Linked DNA regions of Homo sapiens. The protein of the gene in region 3 purifies or fractionates together with the protein of the main gene of each other region. This does not show direct contact. Each region holds a gene or a part of one and is shown on either strand. Other genes may lie near its edges.

Region 1 (7,897 bases), on a different chromosome or scaffold from region 3:
CATTCCTGAGCTTCGTAAGTGACAAGCTGCCACAATAGAGCTTAGCTTGTCACTTATCAGAGCCTTTAGAACAATCAGGTTACTCACTGTCAGCGTCTCTCCATCTGTTTAGTAACAGGGCAGGTGGGCTGTCAGCCAAGTCCTCTCTCTCGAGCAGAAGGTGTGTCCCTCCCTAAGGTTCCTTAGTAGCAGGGTGTAGTGTGAGATGGAAGATGTTGCTGAGGTTACAAATCTGGCCCAGCCTCAGCCTTCCCAACATGCCAGAGCTACAAGTAATTCCTCTGAAAAGAGCTTTTTTTCTTCCTCTTAGATTTTGATCTAACAGTTATCAAATTGAATAGTACCAAGATACAGTGGGGAATGCAAAGGTGAGGGAACTTCAGGAGCTCATAAGCCCAATGAGAAAAGACCAGGTTTTTTTTTTTTTTTTGAAAGATTTTAATTTTAGGCCAGGCATGGTGGCTTACACCTACAAACCCCAGCACTTTGTGAGGCTGAGGTGGGAGGATCGCTTGAGGCCAAGAGTTTGAGACCAGCCTGGGCAACACAGGGAGACTCCATCTCTACAAAAATAAAAAATATTAGCCAGGCACAGTGGTGCATGCTTGTGGTCCCAGCTACCCGGGAGGGAGGCTGAGGTGGGAAGATCACCTGAGCCTGGGAGGTCAAGGCTGCAGTGAGTTGTGATCATGCTAGTGCATTCCAGCCAGGGCAACAGACCCTTTTAGAAACAGGGTCTTACTCGGGTGCCCTGGCTAGAGTGCAGTGGTGTGATCACAGCTTACTGCAGCCTGGAACTCCCGGTCTCAGTAGGTTCTCCCACCTCAGCCTCCCAAAGTGTTGGAATTACAGGTTTAAGCCACCATGCCCGGCCTTAGGTTTTTGTTTTCGATGGGGAAAAAAAAAAAAAAACAGTAGTAGAACAGGACAATAAAGCCTCCATGTAGCCATAACCCAACTCCAGTAACTATCAACTCAGATCAGTCTTGTTGCATCTATACCTCCCGCACGCTGTTCCTCTCCCACTGTCTGAACTATTCGGAAACAAACCCCAGTCATGTCATTTATTAAGTATTTCGATATGCATCTCAAGTATTTTAAAAACAAGCAAAATATGCCGGGCACGATGGCACACACCTGTGATCCTAGCACTTTGGGAGGGTGAGGCGGGCGGATTGCCAGAGCTCAGGAGTTTGAGACCAACCTGGGCAACATAGTGAAACCCCGTCTCTACTAAAATACAAAAAATTAGCCAGGCGTAGCGGTAGGCGCCTGTAGTCTCAGCAACTCGGGAGACTGAGGCAGGAGAATCGCTTGAACCCGGGAGGCAGAGGTTGCAGTGAGCCGAGATCGCACCAGTGCACTCCAGTCGGGGCGACAGAGCAAGACTCCATCTCAAAAAAAAAAAAAAAGCAAAATACCTTTAAAAAATTTCTTAAAATCATCATATCCAATCACATTGTTCAGATTTCCCTAGTTGTCTCATAACTTGTGTAGTTTCAATTGAGATCCAAATCAGTTTCATACATTGCTATTATTTGTCTCTGAATTTTTTTTTTTTTTTTTTTTGAGACAGAGTTTCACTTGCCGCCCAGACTGGAGTGCAGTGATGCGATCCCAGCTCACTACAGCCCCCGTCTCCCGGGTTCAAGTGATTCTCATGCCTCAGCCTCCTTGGTAGCTGGGACTACAGGCGCCCGCCATCATGCCTGGCTAATTTTTTGTTTTTTTGTGTGTGTGTTTGTGTGACAGAGTCTCGCTCTGTTGCCCAGGCTGAAGTGCAGTGGCGGGATCTCGGCTAACTGCAAGCTCCACCTCCTGGGTTCACACAATTCTCCTGCCTCAGCCTCCCAAGTAGCTGAGACTACAGGTGCCCGCCACCACGCCCGGCTAATTTTTTTTGTATTTTTAGTACAGACGGGGTTTCACCATGTCAGCCAGGATGGTCTCAAGCTCCTGACCTCATGATCCACCCGCCTCAGCCTCCCAAAGTGCTAGGATTACAGGGGTGAGCCACCTTGCCTGGCCTGTCTATGAAATTTTTTCTACTCTGCAGTTTATCTGTTAAAGAAACTAGGTTATTTGTCCTGTTGCATTTCCCACAGCATCATTTTTGCTATTTGCATCATGGAAATGTTATTAAGCTCCTCTTCTCCATGTATTTCCTGTAAGTTGGTTGTTAGATCTAGAAGCTTGACCAGATTCAAGCTTATTATTTTTGTTTTGTAAGACTACGTCATAGGTGATAGTATATACTTGGTGCGTCTTACCTGGAGGCACTTAATGTCTGGTAGTCCTACTTTGTGATGTTACAGATGCCACTATATCATTTAGAGTTGAGAAACAAGACTGCACTCTGGGCAGAGTGGGGCACAAAATTACAGAGAACCTGGAGAGCTGGTTGTTGTAGGAATGGCAGGTGGCGCAAGGCAGGATGTGCTCAGGAAAAAGCAGAGTCCTGGAGTGAAGGGAATAGGGAGACAAGTCCGCAGGGTGAGATGTAGTCAGCTCATGAGGACTGGTTTGGCTTTTATTTTGTAGGCAGTGGGGTGCTGTTGAAGGGTTTTGAACAGAGAGATGACAGGTCCAGAAACATACTTTTGGAAGATTAACACAGTCAGTTTTGGGTAGGATGATTCAGGGAGGGCAGAGACTGGCTCAGTTTGAAGCAAGTGGAAGTGACACTGGGCAAGTCTGGTTGGGTACCAGTGGACCAGTACCTTCAAGAGGGCAGAACCTTGAGTTGTTTTTCAAGGTCCAGGTTTCAGGATCCTAGGCTCAGAGAGTTGACTGTGAGGCGGCTGGCAGGATCTGGCCCTAGGGACTGACCAAGCTATGGCCAGTGAAACAAACTGTGGACAGGTAACCTGGGTGCTATTGAAACTCAGTTGGTCTACTCCCTGCCCAGGCTTTCTCTACCCTCCAGAAGTCCCCCTTGAGTTCACAAGTGATTTCTGGAATGTTCTTTGGGTCCATATTAAAAATATATCTCTTGGCTATAGCATTTCTATAGAAAGCTATTCCCTTCCATTACATTTTCAACTTGTGTTTCTCAGAGTCGCCTGAACTTCCCTGGGAGGAACTTGGGGGACTTGGCTATTCCCCAGCTCCCTGCTGGTGAAGACCATGAGGCTGGAGGTAGGAGGAAGTGGAATGTGAGAGAGAATGAGGAGGGAGAAGAGATAGACCTGGGTGCCTTGGTGTGGAACGGAGGGAGAGGGAAGACACCCAGGAGGTTTTGGTTCCCAGGATGCCAGTGCTTTGTTGCCTGGGAAAATACAGTGTTACATCTTTCTGTAGGAAGGATGGGGAAAGTCCCTGTCCCCTGTTTGCTAGCCATGAGGCAGCTTGTCAGGAGAGTCTCTGGATTCCTGTCACTTTAATTCAATACACAATCTTGTGTTTACTATAATGATTTCCTCAGAAACTACAAAACTGAGTACTGAAAAGAGTTCCCAGGAATTAACGGAAATGGGACAGAGCCCTCCTCCCCAGCACTTTGTGCACACTCAGGACATCGTGAGCCACCTGCCACACCCAGAAGAGAAAAATCTGACCGGCATCCGGTTTGAATTAGAGCAGGAAGGAAGAGAATTGTGCTCGCCTTTGTCTTTGCCTTTGCCTTTGCTTACCCAACTGCTGGGACCAGAGGCAGCTGGGTTGAACTTTGTCTTTGGTCAGGGGTGGGGGTGGAGGGGACAGAATCCATTTCCCTGGGCTCCATCCTCTTTCTGGTCATTTGGACATGTTTCCTGTGATCTAAATCTGATGTAAGGAAATGACAATTGTGAAAGACCCAGCGTGAGAGAATCTGATGGGAGGGTGGGTCATCAGGGACCAGCTGGCCTGGCTGATGATGTATTAATATCTTAATCACACAGAGGACCCCAATCTCCTTCCAAACCTAATGAGCGGAAGTGGTTCTCAAAGCTACTCAGCCAGCTAGCAGCTGCCATAACCCAGTCAGCTGTCCTAACTCTTAGTCCTGTAATCCCTCCTCCTCATAGAAGATTGTAAACTGGCAGCCCACAGGGCAAATCTAGTGGCCAGGTGTGTTTCATTTGGTCTACATGGCATTTTAAGAACTTTTTGATGCTATCAACATTTTTTAAAAGTGGCAAATTTCACCTAAATATCTGGATTTTTGGCATGTTTTGAAAGGTTGGAAGACCTGGGAATGGTAGGCCCATGTTCCTGCAGGGGAGTGCTCGTCTTCCAATGCGGCGCACAAGCTCCAGCGTCCTGCGCTAAACCTAATTGGCCTGGCTGAGGATCTGCTCCTGGAATGCTGGTTGGTCGCCTCCAACTGTCTTTGACTTAGAGATTATTTACTGTCAGCTTACTCATAGTGGCGCAGAGAAGTGGTTTCTCTGAGCTAGAAGCTTCTAAGAAAAGTCCATCCTCAAAGCTGTTTGTGGGATAGACCTGGCTCCTCCATTGTAATATTCCTGATTCCAAACACTACTGGAAAGAGCTCTGAACTGGCAGTTAGCAGGCCTGGGCTCCCATCCCGGCTCTCCTCCTAATGAGCGAAGCCATTTCAATGTAGTCGAACTTAGCCTCTGATCCTTAACTTTCCCTATCTGTAAATGAGGGCGACTAGATGGGTGCGGACTGTCATCCGTGTTGAGACTTCCGGCCCCCGCAGAATCAACCTTACCGGCGGGAGCACCTCGAGGGGACGCCGCTCGCACTAGGGGGCGCCAGGGCCGCTGCAGAGCCCGAGCCAGAGCCAGGGGGCGGGGCCGCGTCTCGGGAGCGAGGCCTGAGAGCGGCGGGGCGGGGCGTCGGCGGGCAGTCCCCTGTGCCAGGTGTGGTTTGGTCCTCCCAGGGCGCCGTAGGCGGTGCATCCCGTTCGCGCCTGGGGCTGTGGTCTTCCCGCGCCTGAGGCGGCGGCGGCAGGAGCTGAGGGGAGTTGTAGGGAACTGAGGGGAGCTGCTGTGTCCCCCGCCTCCTCCTCCCCATTTCCGCGCTCCCGGGACCATGTCCGCGCTGGCGGGTAAGGAAGGGCTGCTCCGCCCTGTCCCGCTGTTATCTCCGAAGTCCGGTTCCATGGCGCCTGAGGGAAACCGGCTGTCTCTCGGGGGTTTCGGGCTGGTTGGGTCCTCGTGGGTCCGAGCTCCTCAGAAAAGCTGGGAGGCGGGGTGGGCACAGCGCTCCCCAGGCATTTGGAGGGTGGGACTCCGGGAATGGGGAGGCAGGGCATCCTGGAGACAGAGGGCTCCGAGGGGCAGGCGGGTTGGGAGGCTTCCCGCGAGTTGAGGTCCCGGGGAGGAAGAGATTCTGGGTCTGCCAGGAATCCAGCTTTTTGGAGGGACCTGGCGGCCGCAGACCCCCAAATTAACCCTTTTTAAGGAAGTTGAAAAGCATGGGGTTCTCTTATAGTGGAAGCTCTGTGGAATTTGAGGAGTACAGGATCCTCTAGGGTTCAGGACAATTAGGAGAGTTACCCCGGGTTCTGGGTTTTCTGAGGGAAATGGAGGATGTGACTTCCCTGCCAAGACCCAAGGCTTCTCGCGGGCATCTTGGTGTCTGGGAGTCCCCCGGGGCTGGGAGCTCTTTGCAGAAAATAAGGGAGTATGGAGCCCCTTGAGGTTTAGGACAGGACTAAGGGTAAGGAGAGATCGGACCATTCTTTTTGGGGCCCAAAGATCTCTGCTACAGGTGGCGAAAGTAGGCCACCTGGGGTTCTGAGTCCTCCTGTGGAAGCTCCCTTGGCCTCTCTAGACTAAAGACTAGAGGGATTCGGCCAAACACCTCCTGGAAGGAAGAGTTGTCTAAGGGTGAAGGGTAGCTTCAGAGTTGGGTTAGTTGCACCTGCAGTCACCTCCCCGCCACCTCACACACCACCCTGCAGCTTCCTGCCTTCCCCATCTTTTCCCCCAGCAGTAGGAACCTTCTGTCTCCTATGTTTCCCAGCCACCTGTGTGGGTGGCCCACCTCTGGGTCCACCAGGGTCAGCGTCCAGAAGCTTTGGAGAGGCGGCAAGAGGGTATTGAGGTGGAGGGGGGCTGGCTATCTGCCCCCTGCTTCCTGGCTTTCCGTCTGTGGACAGTCACTTCCTTCATCTTGAATGCAAGGACTGGGCTACCAGTGGGTCACTTCCTCAGCAAGGGAGCATGGGATTTTCTCTTCACTGGTGATAACAGACTTCTGGAGAGAGCTAGGGGTGGAAATGCCTAAAACAAATTTTTTTAGGCTGGGCGTGGTGGCTCATGCCTGTAATCCCAGCACTTTGGGAGGGCAGGGCAGGAGGATCGCTTGAGTCCAGGAGTTTGAGACCAGCTTGGGCAATATAGCGAGACTTCATCTCTTAAAAACAAAACCTTGTCTCTTAAAAAAGATTTTTTTTAAGCTTACAGAGTCCTTCAACTCGAATGATTTCCAGTAACTTTTTTTTTTTTTTCTTAGATGGAGTCTTGCTCTGTCGCCCAGGCTGGGGTGCAGTGGCACAATCTTGGCTCATTGCAACCTCTGCCTCCCGGGTTCAAGCGATTCTCCTACCTCAGCCTCCCGAGTAGCTGGGACAACAGGGGCCCGCCACCACGCCCGGCTAATTTTTTTGGTATATTTAGTAGAGATGGGGTTTCACCATATTGGCCAGGCTGGTCTTGAACTCCTGACCTTGTGATCCGCCCGCTTCGGCCTCCCAAAGTGCTGGGATTACAGGCGTGAGCCACCGCACCCGGCCGATTTCCAGTAACTTTTTCTAACAGCTGTGTAATATAGGTTGCCTGTCTTGAACCCTGTTTCTTAGAAAATTGTGAAAGGTTTCACAGTACAATAGTCTAGAGGCATAAAGCCTCTAGATGCATTAGTTTATGCATTCTTTCTTTCATTCAAAGAATATTTGTTGGATTCTTCTGTGTCATATACTTAGCCAAATGCTGAGTACAGTGGTGACATAGTTCTTGGCTTTGTGGTGCTTAATAATCCTAGAGATGGACAATAAATAATTGTAACAATTGCAATAAATGCTATAATAGTTAAGGTAAACAATTGAGATAAGTGCTGTAAGAGTGCACCAGGGGTGAGGGTTTTCTCTACTTTTTTTTCTGTTTTGGTAGAGACAGGGTCTCACTATGTTGCCCACGGTGGTTTCAAGCCATCCTCCTGTCTCAACCTCCCAAAGTGCTGGGATTACAGGCATGAACCACCATGCCCATCCTCTACTTTTTTTTTTTTTGAAGGGAATACTTTTCTTAAAAATGCAAGTTTATGCTGACCCCTGGAGATAAGTAAAAGTTAGCCTGGCAAAAAAAGCTCACAGAGCATTCCAGGCAGAGGAAACAGCATAAAAAGGCCCTAGGGTAGGAAGGCATGTAGTGCCTTTGAGCCTTGGAGCTGGGAGGTCAATATGGTTTTTTGATTTTTTTGTAGGGGGTGGGGAGGAAGAGTCTTGCTCTGTTGCCCATGCTGGAGTACAGTGGCGCGATCCAGACTCACTGTACCCTCCACCTCCCAGGTTCAAGTGAATCTTCTGCCTCAGCTTCCTGAGTAGCTGGGACTACAGGCAAGTGCTACCACGCCCAGCTAATTTTTTGTATTTTTATTAGAGACGGGGTCTTACCATGTTGCCCAGGCTGGTCTCAAACTCCTGAGCTCAGGCAGTCCACCCGCCTTGGACTCCCAAAATGCTAGGATTATAGGCGTGAGCCACCATGCCCAGCCAAGTATGGCTTTTTTATAGATGAGGAGACAGGCCCAGAAATGACAAGGTTCCATAGCTAAATGAGCAGTGGTGGTCAGAGTTCATATTTTCCAACTTCAAGTTTAGTGCTTCCTCCTCTCTGTAGCACAAAAAGCAGAATGAAGTTGACTATGGAGTCTGAGAAGGAAGTGGGACTTAAACTTTCACTTGTTATTCCATTCAAACCATGTTCTGAGACACCTCAGA
Region 2 (7,000 bases), on a different chromosome or scaffold from region 3:
TTTTGTCTCCTGCTCTTTAAATGGAGGAAATTGTTCATGTAGGAAAAGACCAGGAAGTGTGATTCTGCTTTCTGCTCTGTGTGGTTCAAGCTCTGTTTTGTTAATTACATGTTTATACCAAGGGGTGGAAAGGTTTTAATTCATTAACACAAGAGTGTGTTTTTCTTAAAGTCCTATATTAGAACTTCTGTGAATCCAGACTGCCTTGGCAATGAATATTTTGATTTTCATGGCTTTTGAAACATGAAAATACCTCTGGAAATAGTCTGGTGCCACTGGGGACTTCACTAAGAACTAAAATTAAATTTTAGTAGAAGGCAGAAAGAAAACTCATGCTTTCATAATGGTTTATATCTTGCTGTCATCAAATGCTTTTCTTTCTTCAGCATGTTTGCTGTGACTGCAAGAAGGATTTTTGCTCCGTTTGTTCAGTCTTACAAGAAAATCTCCGTAGATGTTCTACTTGTCACTTATTACAAGAGACAGCATTTCAGCGCCCTCAGTTAATGCGACTGAAGGTGAAGGACCTGCGGCAGTATCTCATTCTGAGAAATATACCCATAGATACTTGTCGTGAGAAAGAAGACTTGGTGGATCTAGTACTGTGCCATCATGGACTAGGCTCTGAGGACGACATGGACACAAGCAGTCTGAATTCTTCAAGGTCCCAGACTTCTAGCTTTTTTACACGTTCGTTTTTTTCAAACTATACAGCCCCCTCTGCTACTATGTCTTCGTTTCAGGGAGAGCTTATGGATGGAGACCAAACATCCAGATCTGGAGTGCCGGCACAGGTACGAGGGGGTAACTAATTACACCCAGGGCCCGGCACGCTTATTCTTGGCCGTATATGGTGGGGCCTTTAGTGCTTGATGACTTCTGATAAACTTCAAGTCATGTGCTGGAGTGAAGCTTCCACACCCAGCTGAACTCTGCACTTAAAGGCTGTCCTGATGTATAGTGTCTGCTGAGGTGCTAGGTGGCTCCAAAGTCTGCTGTCTGAAGGGTCCCAAAATAGCTCATCAGTCTCTTGGCCTTAGTTAATTTCTCTGTCTTACACAGTTAGACACTAACTGTTGAAGAAATGGCTGTGAAAAAGTAGCACATACACATTTGTAGTGTTATGTGTTAGTGCACGTGTTTCAGTGACCACAGAAAACAATCAGTAGTGTAAGTTAGCCTAATGCCCATTTGTCTTGCTACAGTGAAATTGTTCTAATTTAGTTAATGAAAGAGCCATCTGAATTAGTGAAAAAATGTAGTTATTTACTAATTGTAATTAATAATATTGTCCCAGTGAGGTCCTTGGACATCCTGATTGAATAACATGTAAAGGCTTGTAATTAATATTTACTTGTACGTGAGTGATTCTAAACTGCTGAAAGAAATGTTTTGAACAAATTTTTTCACGCTTAATTTTCTTCTCTGAAGAAGGGGGTTATTAAAAGTAGAGGAAAGCTGGATGCGGTGGTGTGAGCCTGCAGTCTGATACTTGGCAGGCTGAGGCAAGAGGATTGCTTTAGTTCAGGAGTACGAGGCTGCAGGTGTACCATGATTGCAACTGTGAATAGCCACTGTACCCCCAGCCTGGGCAACATAGCAAGACTTTTTTTTTTGTTTGGAGGCAGAGTCTCACTCTGTTGCCCAGGCTAGAGTGAAGTGGCGAGATCTTAGTTCACTGCAACCTCTGCCCCGCTGGGTTCAAGCAATTCTCCTGCCTCAGCCTTCCGAGTAGCTAGGATTACACCCCAGTTAATTTTTGTATTTTTAGTAAAGATGGGGTTTCACCATGTTGGTCAGGCTGGTCTCGAATACCTGACCTCAGGTTATCTACCTGCCTTGGCCTAAGTGCTAAGATTACAGGCATGAGCCAACCGCGCCTGGCCAAGAGTGTCTTTTAATTAGTAAATGAATAAATGCAGAGGGAAATTTGGTCTAATTGCCTTCTAGATATAGTCCTGTGTCCTCTAATAATGTTTTGGTCAGTGATAGACCACATACACGGCAGTGGTTCTGTAAGATTATAATACCATATTTTTATTGTACCTTTTTTGTGTTTAGATATGTTTAGATACACAAATACTTATTACTGTGTTATAGCTGCCTACAGTATTCAGTACACTAACGTGATGTACGGCTTCGTAGCCGGCCATGCCCTATAGCCTAGGTGTGTAGCAGGCTGTGCCATCTAGGTTTGTGGAAGTACACTGTGATGTTCGCACAATGACAAAATCGCCTAAGGACACATTACTCAGAACGTCTCCTAGTCGTCAAGCAACACATACTGTAGTCGTAAATTAGATAAGTCCAAGCCAGGAGTTTTATTATTCTCCCAAATGAGAATTGGCATATTTATGCTGCAAACATAAGGCACAGCTGACTTACATACCCCTTTTGGGTATACACCACCATTTGGGTGATGTGGATTGTTGGATGCTACAGTATGGTGCCTGGCAATCAGGGTGGAATATTTGAAATTGGGAACCGACCTAGCTTATTGGAGAGCTATTGTCAAATATAGTCAAAAGAAAATATGTGAAGGAAGGTACATAACCCAAACTGAAGAGATTTGTGTTTTCTAAAGTGTTCTGATTGAGAAATTTTAAAAACTAGAATTAGCCTCAGCCATCAGTGAAGTCTAGAAAGCCTTCGTTGGAATTAGATTGTCTAAGTACGCTGTGGTAGGACTGAGATCTTTCAAATCAGATGCCCCTGATGCTTGGGCTGACCCATCAGAGCTTTAGCTTTTTTCTGTCTGCATCTTACAGGCTCCAGTTAAACTAGCCATTTGCAGGTACTTTGATAATGACACAGTGCTGTCCCATATCCTTAATGGCTTTGGCATTCCATTATGGGACCTTCCTGAGAGAGTTAATACTCTGGTTAGATTTTATAACTTTACACACACACAGGAATTTGTGTTTTGAGCTAACTTTATGGAAGGTAGGTTCTTCATGCAATTTTGTAGGGCCCAACTTTTTGGAAGGGTCAGCAGCATTCTGAATCCAAAGATGTGCATTATGCTGGCTTTCTGGTCATCATGGGGAGCATCAATGACAAGGTTTTCTCTAGTGATAAATACAGATTGATTCCTGACCTAATCAGATACGTTGTATAAGTGTAGGTACAAAGTGAAATCACTTCAGCAAACACAGAAGATGATGATGACGACGATGATGAGGATGATGATGATGAAGAAGAAAACGCAGAGGATCGGGTGAGGCCACCTATAAAATTTGGTTTCCCTGACATGTCAGCCTGACAGGAAGGGACAGTGCCCTGTGGACATTCGCTAGATTAGTACAGGATGTTTCTTCTGGTTTGAATGTAGGACAGTATACTGAAACACTTCTAGGACTGCTGAGATGGCTGGGAGAATATTCAGGGCCAGTGATGAGTTTAGAGTGGGGAGGGTCTGGACTTATGGGACCAGGGCTAATGGATGCTCTGTGGTTTCAGAACCCCGGGCTCTCCAAGGAGAGAGTGAGAGCTTCACTGTCTGACTTGTCAAGCCTTGATGATGTGGAAGGAATGAGCGTGCGCCAGCTGAAGGAAATTCTGGCTCGGAATTTTGTCAACTATTCTGGCTGTTGTGAAAAATGGGAACTGGTAGAGAAAGTAAACCGGTTATACAAAGAGAATGAAGAAAACCAAAAGTCCTGTAGGTTTATCTTTTCATTTTTTCCCTGTAGTATTTTTCCTTAGGCTTTTAAAAACTGGGTTGTTTTTGTCACAATTAAGTCAAATTTATTTTTGAGAAAGCTGTGTACCATTTTACTGAGTATCAGTTAGTTACATGAGCCTGTTTATAGATCTGGAAAGGAGTAACTTCATTATGTGATGTTCATTATGGCTGCGAGACCACCACTGCCAAGTGAGTTAGAAAATTATTCAATTTGGTTTTTCTTACTATAATTAACTATTTGTTACAACCCTAATTAAATTCCTCGTCTCTGTAAAAATGCTTATTTTCTCACTAATGCCTTTGGCCGGCCAGTACCTTGGTTCTCTCAACTTTTAAATCTAACAGTAGGGGGAAAATTCCCTATAGCCCAGATGTTACATAGTTCTTAGCATCAACTATCTGTAGATTTCTGTGTAAGTCACAAAAAGCTGAGGTTAAGAACTTCTGAACTAGGCTGGGCTTGGTGGCTCACAACTGTAATTCTAGGACTTTGGGAGGCTGAGGCAGGAGGATCACTTGAGCCCAGGAGTTTGAGACCAGCCTGGGCAACATAGAGAGATCCCATCTCTAAAAAAAAAAAAAAAAAAAAAAAAAAACCAAAAAAACCTGGTGTGGTGGCACCAGCCTGTGGTCCCAGCTACTTGGGAGGCTGAGGGGGGAGGATTGCTTGAGCCTGCAGGGAGCCGTGGTCATGCCACTGCACTCCAGCCTAGGTGACAGAGCAAGACTGTCTCAAAACAAAACAAAACAGAACAAAAACTTCTCAACTATACATTGATGAAATTTGGCACAGAAATTCTTCCTCAGCTGGTAACACGATCAAGCCACGGAACATTTATGGACAAGAAAAAATAATTCAGTTGTATTTATTTTTTTCTTTTTAATTGTAAAAAAAATATATATGTACTTAATATTTTTAAATTGAGACAGGGTCTCACTATGTTGCCCAGACTAGTGCTGAATTAGGCGTGGGCCACCATGCCTGACCCTCAGTGGTGTTCAGACTAACAAATCTTATGTTCCTATCTAGCTTAAACAGCCCTCCCATCATTAACTTTTATCATCTTGAGTTTTGTCCTTTAAAAGCTGGTTATAATACAGCATTTGTTGATGAACAGGTTTATGCCCAGAATATGCACAAAATATTTTGGCAATCCTACTTCAAAGATGATGTCACAGTGGTAGATGCAGGAATCTTCATCCTCAGAGCTTTCAGAGGTCGTAGGCTGCTGGCTGGGAAATGGTTTTCTGGCAGTGAGGGGAGAAGTCAGTTGACTTCATAAATGTAAATAGCAACTATGTACAGTGCACAACGATAATGCCATTCCCACCCTTAAGTACTTTGCGGCGTAGGATATAACATGGTTGTTATTATGACAGCATGGTTTCCAGTGTCTTTCTCCATTAACTCACTGCATAATCTAACCCTAGTTCAATCTCTGGCTTGGGTGGAACACACATTTTGTTTTGAGCACAGCTGGCATCTTTCCTAGCTTGACTGGCTCCAAGTCACTACCAAGATTGTTCCCATATCCCTGACAAGATACTGGCTCCTCTGCTTTCCTAAGTTCTAAAGAGTGGGAAGGAACCCTCCACACAGAAGGAGAGACCAAGGCCCACTCTGATTTCATCTTGAGTTGCCTAGTGCCTTCTCCATTGGCATATCTGCCATCTCATCCCATAGATCCTTTCTCCCCAGGTCCACACCAGTAGTCGTGGGCCATGAACTAAGACCCCAGATCACAAGAATCTCTCCCCATGAATGGCAGTAAAACATTTCTCTTAAATCTAGAGACTACTGACCTTTCAAGCTTGAATTCCTGTTCTGTTCCAACTATTCATGATTCCCTTTGATCTCCTCTGACCTGTAGAAAGGGAAGCACCCAAATCCATAGCCCTATGGCCAAATCTCAGGCTGGGGTTAACTTTTTTTTAACTTATTCATCGTCTTTCTTATTCACAGACTGGATTTTCTCAGATGTAAAGGTGGGCCAAGAGCCAGGACGGCCCATCTCTTTCAAGTTAGACTTCAGCAGGGCCAGGAACACAGATGGCTTGAGATGATTCTAAGGCTAGGGAGGGAAGGATGCACAATTATTCCTAACTTTCCTAAGGGGGAACTAAGGCTCCTTTTCCTACTGAGATGAGGCTCCAGAGACTGTGGTGTTCCCAGGGCTACAAAGCTGGGGCAACTGAGTTAAATTCCAATAGCATCCTGACTCCAAAGCCCATCTACAGAAGACCAGCTGAGGGTTTCTTTTTCTAGTTACAGAAGTAATATATCCCTATCACAGATGTCTTGAATTAGACAAAGATATAAAATAGAAATACATAGCTAACATTTGTTGGGTACGTCAAGCATTTTATTCTTTACAAAACCCTGAGGTATAGCTTTTATCATTGCCATTTCTAGTGGAGAGAACCAAAGTGCAGAGAAGTTGGGATTATTTCTTGTACAACACTGGGGTGGCATTGGGCCTGCAGGGGTCATTCAGCAGGTGGCTGCTCAGCTTCGGACTGGGAGGGTGGCTGGCTGACTGGCCATGCCTGAAGCCGAGGCCTTAGCTCTCTGTTGCCTTTCAGATGGCGAGCGGCTGCAGCTGCAGGATGAGGAAGACGACAGCCTGTGTCGCATCTGCATGGATGCCGTCATCGACTGTGTCCTACTGGAGTGTGGGCACATGGTTACCTGCACCAAGTGCGGCAAGCGCATGAGTGAGTGTCCCATCTGCCGGCAGTATGTGGTGCGAGCCGTGCACGTGTTCAAGTCCTGAAACAGGCTCCCCTCACCAGGACAGTCACCCCCAAACTTGACCCCCAACATTTCAATGCACAGAAGGGACTGGAAAGTTATGTTCAAAGGCTGAAGCTATTTTAAAACATTATTTTGACTACTAAGTGGGGACAGAAAGATCCATCCTGAGTTGTGGAAACATTGGTCCATGCCGTGAGCCTGTCTGCCTGTGGACACGTGAGCTTCCCGGGCTCAGCTGGGCTTTATCACACATCCCGTGAACACTCATTGAAGTCAGCCTGTTTGCGCCATGTGGGCATCAGCCACTGCTGTCTTGGGAGGACACTTATCCTGTTCTCTTATTTCCCCTTCATCCTATTTTTAACTTAAACTGCTCAGATGTTTGAAACTTCTGTCCTCTTTGGATGAGATCAGTGTCCACAAGTGGCCGACATGGAACATGCTGAGCAGTGGCTCCTCTGAATGTTCACTTTATTAGTCATGTATATTTTAAATGCTAACATTTGATGAATGTAAGTTTCCACATTGTTGCTGTTTCTGCATTTAAACATAATTGGGAA
Region 3 (3,462 bases):
CCAGGACTACTTTCTCCATGGTGGTGGCTCATAGCCAGGGCTGCGTAAATGACCTCTAAGGGGGTTCTCTCTGCTTGCTAAGACTTCCTCCCATTTGGAGATCAACAAAGGATGAGAGCAAAGTTGGCCTCCTCCCACCTGCCATATCCCAGGCTCTGGGCTTGAGTCAGCAGAGCTTTGGTTAAGCTGCTTAAGGGAGCTGGGCTGGTGTAAGCTTCTTACTGAGAGGAGGGGGTTTGGAGGAGAGGAGGAATAGGGAAGGGGTTGTTCACCTGCCCCAGCCCCACCCATATCAGGGAAAGTCCCCTTAACATCAGCCTCACCTGATACATCTAGATGTCATGCCAGGGGCAGCTGTGGGGTGAGGGTAGGAGTATCCTCCAGAGAAGGACAGTGACTCTCCCAAGACAGAGCTGTGTGGCCCCCTTTACAGGTGGTTCTCAAAGGCAGGGTACCAGAGAAGTTGATACACTGAGTTGCAGTAGAAGAGACAGGTCAGACTGCAGGAAGTTGTTCCCATATGAGAAGAGAGGCTCCCACCAGGCTGGATACCTAATTCTCCCAAAGTCATCTAGCCAGCCTTGGCAGAGCGGAGGCCAGAATGAGGACCCTCAACTCCAGAGTGGGAGAGAGAGTGTTCAGGAGGTGGCCTTGTCCTCTACCCTTCTCTGCCCTGCCCTTCCCTGGCCCCCAGAGACCAGTAGGATGGCACTCCTTATCCCCTGTTAGATCCCCATGGCGGAGTTATGTCTCTTCCACACTGGGGGTGTACCCCAAGGGCAGGGACTGAGGTCCCTCTTTCCAGAGGGCAGTGATCCCAGGGATGAGAAGATGGTAGCTACTCTGGGGTCCCACACAAGCTGACCTGGCAGCAGGGGCTTTGCGGCCCCTTCCTTGCTCAGCTGCCTGTTTCCCCTAGACTACCTCTGCTCCCCTGAGGAGAATATCTACAAGATCGACTTTGTCAGGTTTAAGATTCGGGACATGGACTCAGGCACTGTCCTCTTTGAAATCAAGAAGCCCCCAGTCTCAGGTGAGTGGGCTGGGTGGGCCATTGATGGGGAGGCAGATAGGAGCTGCGGAGTGGGCTGCCCAGGGAATCCTTGGGCCACAGAGGAGTCCACAGAGCTGGGGCTTGGACCCCAGCATTCTCAGGAGTCTGCAGGCAGGGGGGCCCTTTCTTTTCCTTCCCATATGTTTCTGAGGCTGGACATCTTGCGAGGTCAGCCCTACCCCTTCGGTCCCTGCCAACCTGCCCTCTGCAGGGCTCTCTGGGAACTGCAGTCCTACGGGTCCCAGGCCTCAGCATCCTGTGGCCCGGGGAAGCACAGTGGCGATTGGGAACATGCAGACCTAGAACCCCTAGGTGGCACTATTTGGCCAATGGTCTGAGCCCTCAGTGTGCCCCGGAATTTCTTGGGGAGTTTAAAAAAAATCAGATAGATGGGGACCCAAGGGTAGAACCCTGGGTGGACAAGGGCCCAGCCTGAAGCCCACTGAGCCCCAGCTGGGGTACATTGCAGAACGGTTGCCCATCAACCGGCGGGACCTGGACCCCAATGCTGGGCGCTTTGTCCGCTACCAGTTCACGCCTGCCTTCCTCCGCCTGAGGCAGGTGGGAGCCACGTGAGTCGCTGGGCTATGGGTGGTGGTGGGGGTGAGGGAGAGGGTGTGAGTGGGCCCTTCTCAGCCTCTCGTAGGGGTGGCCTGTCCTGAGCCTGGCTGGCTAGTTGACTTCAAGGACAGACTTAGCCCTGCCTCCTTTTCTTGCTCAGGGTGGAGTTCACAGTGGGAGACAAGCCTGTCAACAACTTCCGCATGATCGAGAGGCACTACTTCCGCAACCAGCTACTCAAAAGCTTCGACTTCCACTTTGGCTTCTGCATCCCCAGCAGCAAGAACACCTGCGAGCACATTTACGACTTCCCCCCTCTCTCCGAGGAGCTGAGTGCGCGGGCAGGGTCTTCTGGGAGTGGGGAAGTGGGGGCGTCTAGAGACTGAGCTGCGGGAGGGAGAGGGACTTGTGGGTCTGATCCCATTTCTCCCCACCCTGGGGCTCTTCTGTGTCTGCCACCATTCCCATATCATCCGTAGAGAAAGAGGCTGGGGATATTTCAGGCTGTTTGGCTGTCCCTGTACCCCAGTCCTGAAGCCCCTGCAGTGGCGGGACTCAAGCTCCTGACCTTTGCCCGGCCTGGCTGGGCCTCTCTTGCAGTCAGCGAGATGATCCGCCACCCGTATGAGACCCAGTCTGACAGCTTCTACTTCGTGGATGACCGGCTGGTGATGCACAATAAAGCAGACTATTCCTACAGCGGGACACCCTGACCCCACGGCTGCCCTGACCCCAGGAGGCTCCAGTTCTGGGCTGGGAGCTGTGACCTCCCCAACGCTCACCCCTCAACCCCAAGTCCTCTGCTTGGGGAGTTCTCCAGGAGCTCCGGACCCTGAGTCAATGTTGGGAGGAAGGGTACCTGGTGTCCCCAGTCAAGCCCATGAAGCCCATGCGGCCTGCTACATGGGGTGGGGTCGTAGGGAGGCTGTTTGCCTCCACGTCTAGGAAGGCCTGTGAGAGGAGCAGTCAGGACTTCCGGACAACTTAGCTGGGCCCTACTTGGGCCCAAGTTTCAGAATAGTGTTCCCCTATCAAGGCTGTGACTAGATCAGGCAGGGATCCATTCCCTGTCCCCTGCCCACTACCTTCAGGCCATTTAGAGTTGTAAATTTACAAAGATCCACGGTGGGCTCCAGCTGCCAAGCCACCCAAGGGAGTCTGGGCCCTAGGCCTAGCCCCATCCCTCCCCATGAGGGGCCAAGACACTGCCTAAGGTGTGGGAGGGACTGGCTGAGATTGCAGCCCATGGTAGGAGCTGGACCAACTGTATATAGTTTTCAATAAACTTTTTCCTTTTCTGTTCTCTGGTGTGGCCAGCCTCTGTGTGTATGGGCAAAGAAGGGAGCAGGGATAGGCAGGAATGTGCTTAAGGCAGTAAAAATTTCTCCTACCTCCCACATTCCAGTGCACTCTCACCCCTTAGTCTTCCTGTCCCCTGATTCTCTGTACCCTGACACCATATAGAGTCAGCATTTAGAACATGATGGAGCTGGAGAGGGTCTTTCTTGTGATGAAGGAGACCCAGACCCTGAGAGGGGAAGCTTTGGCCCAAAGTCAGAGCCAACCCTGGCAGAACAGAGGCCGAAACAAAGGCCCTGAACTCCAGGGTGCAAGGGGAAGGTGTGGGGGGTGGGGGTTTGGCCTTGTCCTCCACGCTACCTTCCCTGAACCCCAGAGGCCACTAGGACCACTGGGTTGTGTTTTTAGCCCTCATGATAGACGGTGGCAGGGCTTTGGCTAAGGCCTGGAGCCATCTCCTTGCCCTCAGCTGCCTTGGGGAGCCCCCATGCCTGGGTAGCCCTGCACATAACACTGCCCTCAGCCTCCACCCCCACCCCAGACTCAGA
Region 4 (7,045 bases), on a different chromosome or scaffold from region 3:
CTAAAGGGCATTTCTTCTTGGGTCAAAAATGTTAATTTCCTTGTCCAGTAAAATGAACTGAGACTATCTTTGAATGCAGTCTTTTGGAGAGGTCAGCCTAAAAAGCCATTAGAATGGTTATATCCATAAGTGACATGTACAGTACATATCAACACAAAGGAAAAAATGGCTCCATATATTTCCCATGAGGTCCATCTTACGAAGCATCAAAATGAACCTAAATGATACGCTGCTTAAGGATATCATCAAGGGTTAAGAGACTGAACGGAATAGAAAATGAGTAAGATGAGATTATATAAAGGCAACACATCTGTAATACCTATATATATATATATATATTTTTTTTTTTTTTTGAGATGAAGTCTCACTCTGTCGCCAGGCTGGAGTCCAGTGGTGAGATCTCGGCTCACTGCAACCTCTATCTCCTGGGTTCAAGTGATTCGCCTACCTCAGCCTCCCGAGTAGCCAGGACTACAGGTGCGTGCCACCACGCTCAGCTAATTTTTTGTATTTTTAGTAAAGACGGGGTTTCAATATGTTGGCCAGGCTGGTCTTGAACTCCTGACCTCATGATCCACCCACTTCAGCCTCCCAAAGTGCTGGGATTACAGGTGTGAGCCACCGTGCCTGGCCAATACCTATATTCTTTACCTTAACTTCAAAGACAACATTAGCTGGTGAAGTCAACTTTGAGACAAAAAAAAAAAAAGCTAGTCACACAATTTAAATACACATCTGTGACAAACATCAACTGATTTAATAATTTTTATCACTGGATGCCAGTGCTTAGTAGAAGGACTCTTCTTACCACCTAAGTGGCAATACTTTTAATATGATTATACTTTTTTATTTTTATTTTTTCAGACGGAGTTCCACTCTCATTGCCCAGACTGGAGTGTAATGGTGTGATCTTGGCTCACTGCAACCTCCATCTCCCCGGTTCAGGCGATTCTCCTGCCTCGGCCACCCGAATAGCTGGGATTACAGGTGCCTGCCACCACGCCTGGCTCATTTTTGTACATTTAGTAGAGATGGGGTTTCACCATGTTCACCAGGCTGGTCTTGAACTCCTGATCTCAGGTGATCTGCCCACCTCGGCCTCCCAAAGTGCTGGGATTACAGGTGTGAGCCACCATGCCCAGCCTAATATTATACTCTCGATAACAATTTTGCTGCAAGAGCATAATTATGATCGAATATTTCCTTTGCAAATCTATTTCTCTGAAGTGTGGTATTATTAATTTTGATTCTTGCCTTTTTAAAAAAGAAACTAAAGACTATTCTCTCCATTTCTATATTATTTATTAGATTTTTACATTTTACATGTTTTTTCATTTTTCTTGGGGGTAAATGAAGCACCTAACGCTTTATATTTTTTTAAAGCTGCTCTGAGACAAAAAAAAATAATCAAACTTAGGGTCTTGGTAAGCTTGGTGTTAAAGCAGTAAGGTTCTGGTACTCACTGTCTTTATAAAACACAGACCTCTACCATCATAAACAGCTCACCATGGAGACATCTGGCCAACTAGTCTAACCCTCTCTGACAAATGGTCCAGGAATCAATGATTCATCTCTTCAAATATTTGCTTGCATTCAGCCATAGTACAGATCAGTGAGAAAGAACACTTTCTTTTCTTTGAAAATAGGACTGCAGAATTACACTGCCTAGGAAGGAAAAGCTGATTACAAGAGTGACCATAAAGAAGAAAAACCAGACTTTGGGCACTAAATTACTATTGTTATAATCTTCACCTTATCATTCCAAAATAGTGTTAGAGGATGTGACTTTTTTTCCAACCCTCCCCCACAAAGGCTAAGTCAAATAGCATGAATAGCAAAATGTGTAACATCCTGAAAATTTTAATGATGTTCTCTCATTAGAAAATGTTTTCGGATTTTTCCCTAAGTGTGTTAAAGAGATAGCTTCTATCATCACATTTACTCCCCACTCCCAATATTTTATTATGAAATTTTCCAAACATACAGAAAATTGAATTAGAGTTCACTGTAAACTGTGAACTATATACCCACCACCTAGATTCTACTACTAACATTTTACTAAACTTGCTTTATCCCCACCACCTAGACTCTACTACTAACATTTTACTAAACTTGCTTTATCGCTATCCATCTCTTATCCATCATTAATCCATTCAGTTTTTTTTACATATTTCAAAGTAAACTATAGGCATCAGTATACTTTCTCTTAAATAATTCAGCATGCATATCACTAATTAGACTTCAATAAACTTCAAGTTTTTAGGAGTCGAATTTACATACACTGAAATGTGCAAATCTTTTTTTTTTTTAAACGGAATCTCATTCTGTTGCCCAGGATGGAGTGCACTGGTGTGATCCCAGTTTACCACAAACTCTGTCTCCCGGGTTCAAGTAATTCTCCTGCCTCAGCCTCCTGAGTAGCTGGGATTATTGGCACATGCCACCACACCCAGCTAATGTTTGTGTTTTCAGTAGAGATGGGGTTTCACCATGTGGGCTAGGCTGGTCTCAAACTCCTGACCTCAAATGATCTGTCCACCTCGGCCTCCCAAAGTGCTGGGATTACAGGCGTGAGCCACCGCACCCGGCTGAAATGTGCAAATCTTAAGCACAGTAACGTGCTGAGTTTTATCAAATGCATATACCTGTGACTCAAACCCTATCAAGATAGAGAACATTATCTAGAAACATATTTGCTTAAAAAAATACAAAAATTAGCCAGGCACAGTGGCGTGTGCCTGTAATTCCAGCTACTTGGGAGGCTGAGGTGGGAAGATCACTTGAATCCAGAAGGTGGAGGTTGCAGTGAGCCGAGATCATCCCACTACCCTCAAGCCTGGGTGACAGAGCAAGACTCTGTCTCCAAAGAAAAAAAAAAAAAAGCCTGCAGAACACCCCAAAGACCACAATCTTCTTACTGAAGATTGTGTTTAAATAGGGAAAATCTCAAGTCAACAATACTGATTTGGTAATGCATGAAGATTACACTTGCCAGCTGAAACAGAAACTACCTAAAGATGTTTCAACAAGAGTGTTTCTGTCTTTAGACTCTAAAGCCTCTGGTATTTCATTGGGGAAGGTAAGAAGGGGGTAGATTGTGAAATATTTGGTTGGAATTTTACTTTTCCCACAAAAAGAAAGGTTGTCTTGATGAGGCGTTTTTACTTGCCTCCCAGATGTCCAAAGCTATCTAACCGTAGGTTTAGGTCACACAGAGTACCATTAACTCCTGAACTGTAACTGTCAAGAAGTCTGGGAAAAGCACTGGATGATTCTGACATTTCCCTTATGCACTGAGGATCTTTAAGAAAGCACACCTTTGAAAGTAGGTATTTTTTTCTGGTTGAAAGACTATCTGAGCAGGGCATGGTGGCTCACACCTGTAATCCCAACACTCTGGGAGGCCAAGGCAGGCAGACAGCTTGAGCCCAAGAATTTGAGACCAGCCTGGGCAACATGGCGAAACCCTGTTTCTACAAAAAATACACAAATTAGCCAGAGTGGCGGCTTGGACCCTATAGTCCAGCTACTGGGAAGGGCAGTGGGAGTGAGGGGTGGGAGGATCGCCTGAGCTGGGGAGGTCGAGGCTGCAGTAAACCATGATCGCACCACTGCACTTCAGCCTAGGAGACAGAGTGAGACCTTAAAAAAAAAAAAAAAAAAAAGAGTCTCTGGAAAAACCTTCCTCTAAAAAGTTGAGAGCTTTTTTAACCTAGTAGCAGTGCATCTGTGGTCAGAAAGAATTACAGAATATAGTCCTGACCTAAAATGGTACAAAGGAGAAAAGACAAATCCTTTCAGCATTCAAATAATTTACTAAAAAATAAAATTTAGGCCTAGGATAGAGTAAGGAATTTCCGGAAGCAAATAATAGTAAAAAAGGGGAAGTAAATAATCCCTGCCTGAAATCTTAAGGATTGAAAAATTTGCCTTGGACTCCCAAAAAATACTAAGGAAGAATTGAGGTAAATGCTTATGACGGTTGCAGTACAGGGAAGAAAAACAAATGTAATATTCCGTAGTACTTGTGGTTTTCCCCCCAGGAGGCCAAATAATAGGAGATCATGTGTTATTCAAATATACACAAATCTGAAGGAAAAGGATTTTTCTATTACAGAAAACTCTCTGCTCTTAAGAAAAGCAAATAAAATATATAAGCAGCATGAATATCAACATTTTCCTTAATGATGTCTACTTTAAATGATGTCTAAAACACTCATACTGCATACTCATTTGGATACTTATTAGACCCTAATATGTATTCAATAAATATCTTAGGTGAATTTATTCTAAAATCTGTAACATAAAGTCTCTCCAAAATATTTACCATTTTGAAAAACTGAGACAACACCATTCAATAACTATATATCCAATGCTTATATGGCAGGCAGTGAGGAAAGACGGAAAAAGGTCCCTCATGCTCCTGACAAAGGGAGCTGGGGTTAGGGACAAACTTAGCTCCCTACCCAAAGACTACAGATAAAGCATCTACTAGAAGGAGGCCTCTTGTTCCATCAGTTTTCCAGTGTAAAAGGAACTTTGGTAACACTGAAGTACCTCTGTGTGAGCAAGTTTTTAGGTGACTATACAAATCAGCAATAGCAAAAGGGGACTAGAGAATCTATCTTTGCATTGTAACACATTTATGTCTTACATTATAAGCCAAAATATTGTTGGTATAAATATTCCTGCCCACACAATGAAAAGTAAACAAAAAAACCTATAAATTAAATTGATAAAGATGAAGTTAAATAAAAATTCTAATAAAAAAAGAGGAATCATGATGAAAACTGACATTATTTTGAGACAATTCAGATGATGCACCCCAAACTAAGCATACTTCCTGAATACTGCAGGAATCCCCATTCTGCATATGACATGTGAGAAGCTTGTATTGGTGCCAGGTTTCCCAGGACAGACTTCCTGGGCGAAAAAAGTATTAAGAGACCACAGTAAACTCCAATATTGTTCTAGTTTTAGGTTATGAATACCATGTTTTAGTAATCCTTAGTAATTCACTTGGTAGGTTATTAATAAGTAGCCCTTAGGCATACCTAAGTATGAACAACTATGAAGCAATAAAAACTTAAAAAAACAAACAAACAGTGCTATATTTCCCATGTGGAGGGACTGGGCAGAAACCACATCTTGAGAATCACTGCATTAAGGGAACACAAGAGCGAAAACAATTCTTCAGGAGGTAGAGGGGTAAGAAAAAACTAACACTGAACATTAAACTATGAGGTAATATACTTGCTGAGTAAGGTATTTCAAACCTTCTATTTGAGGTACATAGGACCTATGAAATTACGCCTGGAAACTATAATTTCAAGCAACAAGAAAGCTATGTGCAGAGTTCATTCCTTAACAAATTTAAGGAGTACATAAATTCCTTACTATTTCAAATGTATTCTCAGTTTTCAAAAGCTCAGAAACAAAGCGGAATGTTCTCTAAGAGGCCACCACTATTTATAAGATAACTTTTCCTGATTTAACCTTGTATATACCACACATTTATCTAAAGTTACTACTTTTACATATTTAACCAGCAACCACTCCCTTTTGGAATGGACACATTTGTATGTTTTCTCTACTCACAAAGGTTGGCAAGAAAAGGATTTCAAAAGCTGACTTACTGAATGATAAACCAAAGGGAAATATTCACTCCTTTGCACTTCTAAAAGTTGTAAAAGTCCCCTCCAAAAGGCTGTTGCCCAAGTTACGGCATTTACTACTTCGTGATTATTCTGCTTTTCAATTTTCTAATTTGAATATCAGGGAAAAAACTACCCAAATTCAATGATAACTGCCTTGAAAATGCCAAAAGCTTGAAGAGAAGCTAAATCCATAGTTTATTATCCCCAAATAATTCTTTTGAAATAGATTGCTGGTTCCACTGTGTTTCCCATTTGTGGTGACTACTGACTTTCCACTTATTTTGCAATCCTGAGACTATCACACCCCACTTTACAAGTATCCTACTAAAAAATACAGAACATTTCCTATTTATTTATTTGAGACAGGGTGTTGCTCTGTCACCCAGGCTGGAATGCAGTGGCTCACTGCATCTTCAACCTCCCAGGCTCAAGAGATTCTACCACCTCAGCCTCCCAAGTAGCTGGGACTATCTGCATGTGCCACCACGCTGGGCTAATTTTTGTATTTTTTTGTAGAGATGGGGTTTTGCCATGTTGCCCAGGCTGGTCTTGAACTCCTGGGCTCAAGTGATCCTCCCGCCTTGGCCGCCCAAAGTGTTGTGATTATAGGTGTGAGCCACCATGCCCAGCCATAACTTCCAATCTTAAGTAGTGTAATAGTGATTACTACCTTCAAGAATTCCTAACATTTTCTCCAAACTATATAGAGTGTGAAAGAAAGCTGTATTTAAAAAGATGCAAAGGGATTTCCCACTTCATTAGAACAAATTACTTCATTGTTAAGGAAAGCATATACAATTCTCAACAGACTAAATTAAGCTCACGAGGCCAGGCATGGTGGCTCACACCTGTAATCCTAGCACCTTGGGAGGCCAAGGTGGGTGGATGGCTTGTGCCCAGGAGTTTGAGACCAGCCTGGGCAACATGGCGTAACCCTGTCTTAAAAAAAGTGCAAAAATTGGCCAGGTGTGGTGGCTCGCACCTGTAGTCCCAGTTACTTGGGAGGCTGATGTGGGAGGATCACCTGAGCCTGGGAGGTAGAGGCTTCTGTGAGCCGTGATTGCACCACTGCACTCTAGCCTGAGAGACAGCATGAGACCCTGTCTCAAAAAAAAAAAAAAAAGAAAAGAAAAGAAAAAGAAAAAACAGAAAAAAAGAAATACAGAATAATTGTTTGTTAAACTCTTGACAAAACACACTTTTTTTTTTTTTAGCCTCCAGGCCCCACAGTGCTACATAACTCAGATTTGTTGTTTTTACCTGATTCACTACAGATTAACACACTATTATACAAAATGCTAAGTTTTTATTTCCCTTTGATACTTACTAAATGAAAAGTTATTTTGCTGACAAAAGCAGAAGCCCACATAGAGTATGCTGGTATACCT

The links.
Region 1: the proteins of UNC119 (region 3) and LIMK2 purify together in Homo sapiens (affinity purification with mass spectrometry; 4 studies listed by BioGRID and IntAct, with this or other methods). This does not show direct contact.
Region 2: the proteins of UNC119 (region 3) and RNF34 purify together in Homo sapiens (affinity purification with mass spectrometry; 4 studies listed by BioGRID and IntAct, with this or other methods). This does not show direct contact.
Region 4: the proteins of UNC119 (region 3) and RSPRY1 purify together in Homo sapiens (affinity purification with mass spectrometry; 4 studies listed by BioGRID and IntAct, with this or other methods). This does not show direct contact.

What each region holds. Positions count from the first base shown.
Region 1 is NC_000022.11:31,207,426-31,215,322, forward strand, and holds the start of LIMK2 (LIM domain kinase 2), read left to right. Parts: upstream 1-4,872; 5' UTR 4,873-4,983; coding exon 4,984-4,999; intron 5,000-7,897. UniProt on the Homo sapiens protein: Serine/threonine-protein kinase that plays an essential role in the regulation of actin filament dynamics. Acts downstream of several Rho family GTPase signal transduction pathways.
Region 2 is NC_000012.12:121,417,118-121,424,117, forward strand, and holds part of RNF34 (E3 ubiquitin-protein ligase RNF34), read left to right. Parts: intron 1-386; coding exon 387-794; intron 795-3,124; coding exon 3,125-3,217; intron 3,218-3,459; coding exon 3,460-3,661; exon of another isoform or gene 3,662-3,874; intron 3,875-6,268; coding exon 6,269-6,459; 3' UTR 6,460-7,000. UniProt on the Homo sapiens protein: E3 ubiquitin-protein ligase that regulates several biological processes through the ubiquitin-mediated proteasomal degradation of various target proteins.
Region 3 is NC_000017.11:28,546,163-28,549,624, reverse strand, and holds the end of UNC119 (protein unc-119 homolog A), read left to right. Parts: intron 1-919; coding exon 920-1,033; intron 1,034-1,523; coding exon 1,524-1,626; intron 1,627-1,775; coding exon 1,776-1,948; coding exon of another isoform or gene 1,949-2,001; exon of another isoform or gene 2,002-2,215; coding exon 2,216-2,328; 3' UTR 2,329-2,917; downstream 2,918-3,462. UniProt on the Homo sapiens protein: Involved in synaptic functions in photoreceptor cells, the signal transduction in immune cells as a Src family kinase activator, endosome recycling, the uptake of bacteria and endocytosis, protein trafficking in sensory neurons and as lipid-binding chaperone with specificity for a diverse subset of myristoylated proteins.
Region 4 is NC_000016.10:57,189,329-57,196,373, reverse strand, and holds part of RSPRY1 (RING finger and SPRY domain-containing protein 1 isoform 1 precursor), read right to left. Parts: intron 316-7,045; exon of another isoform or gene 1-315.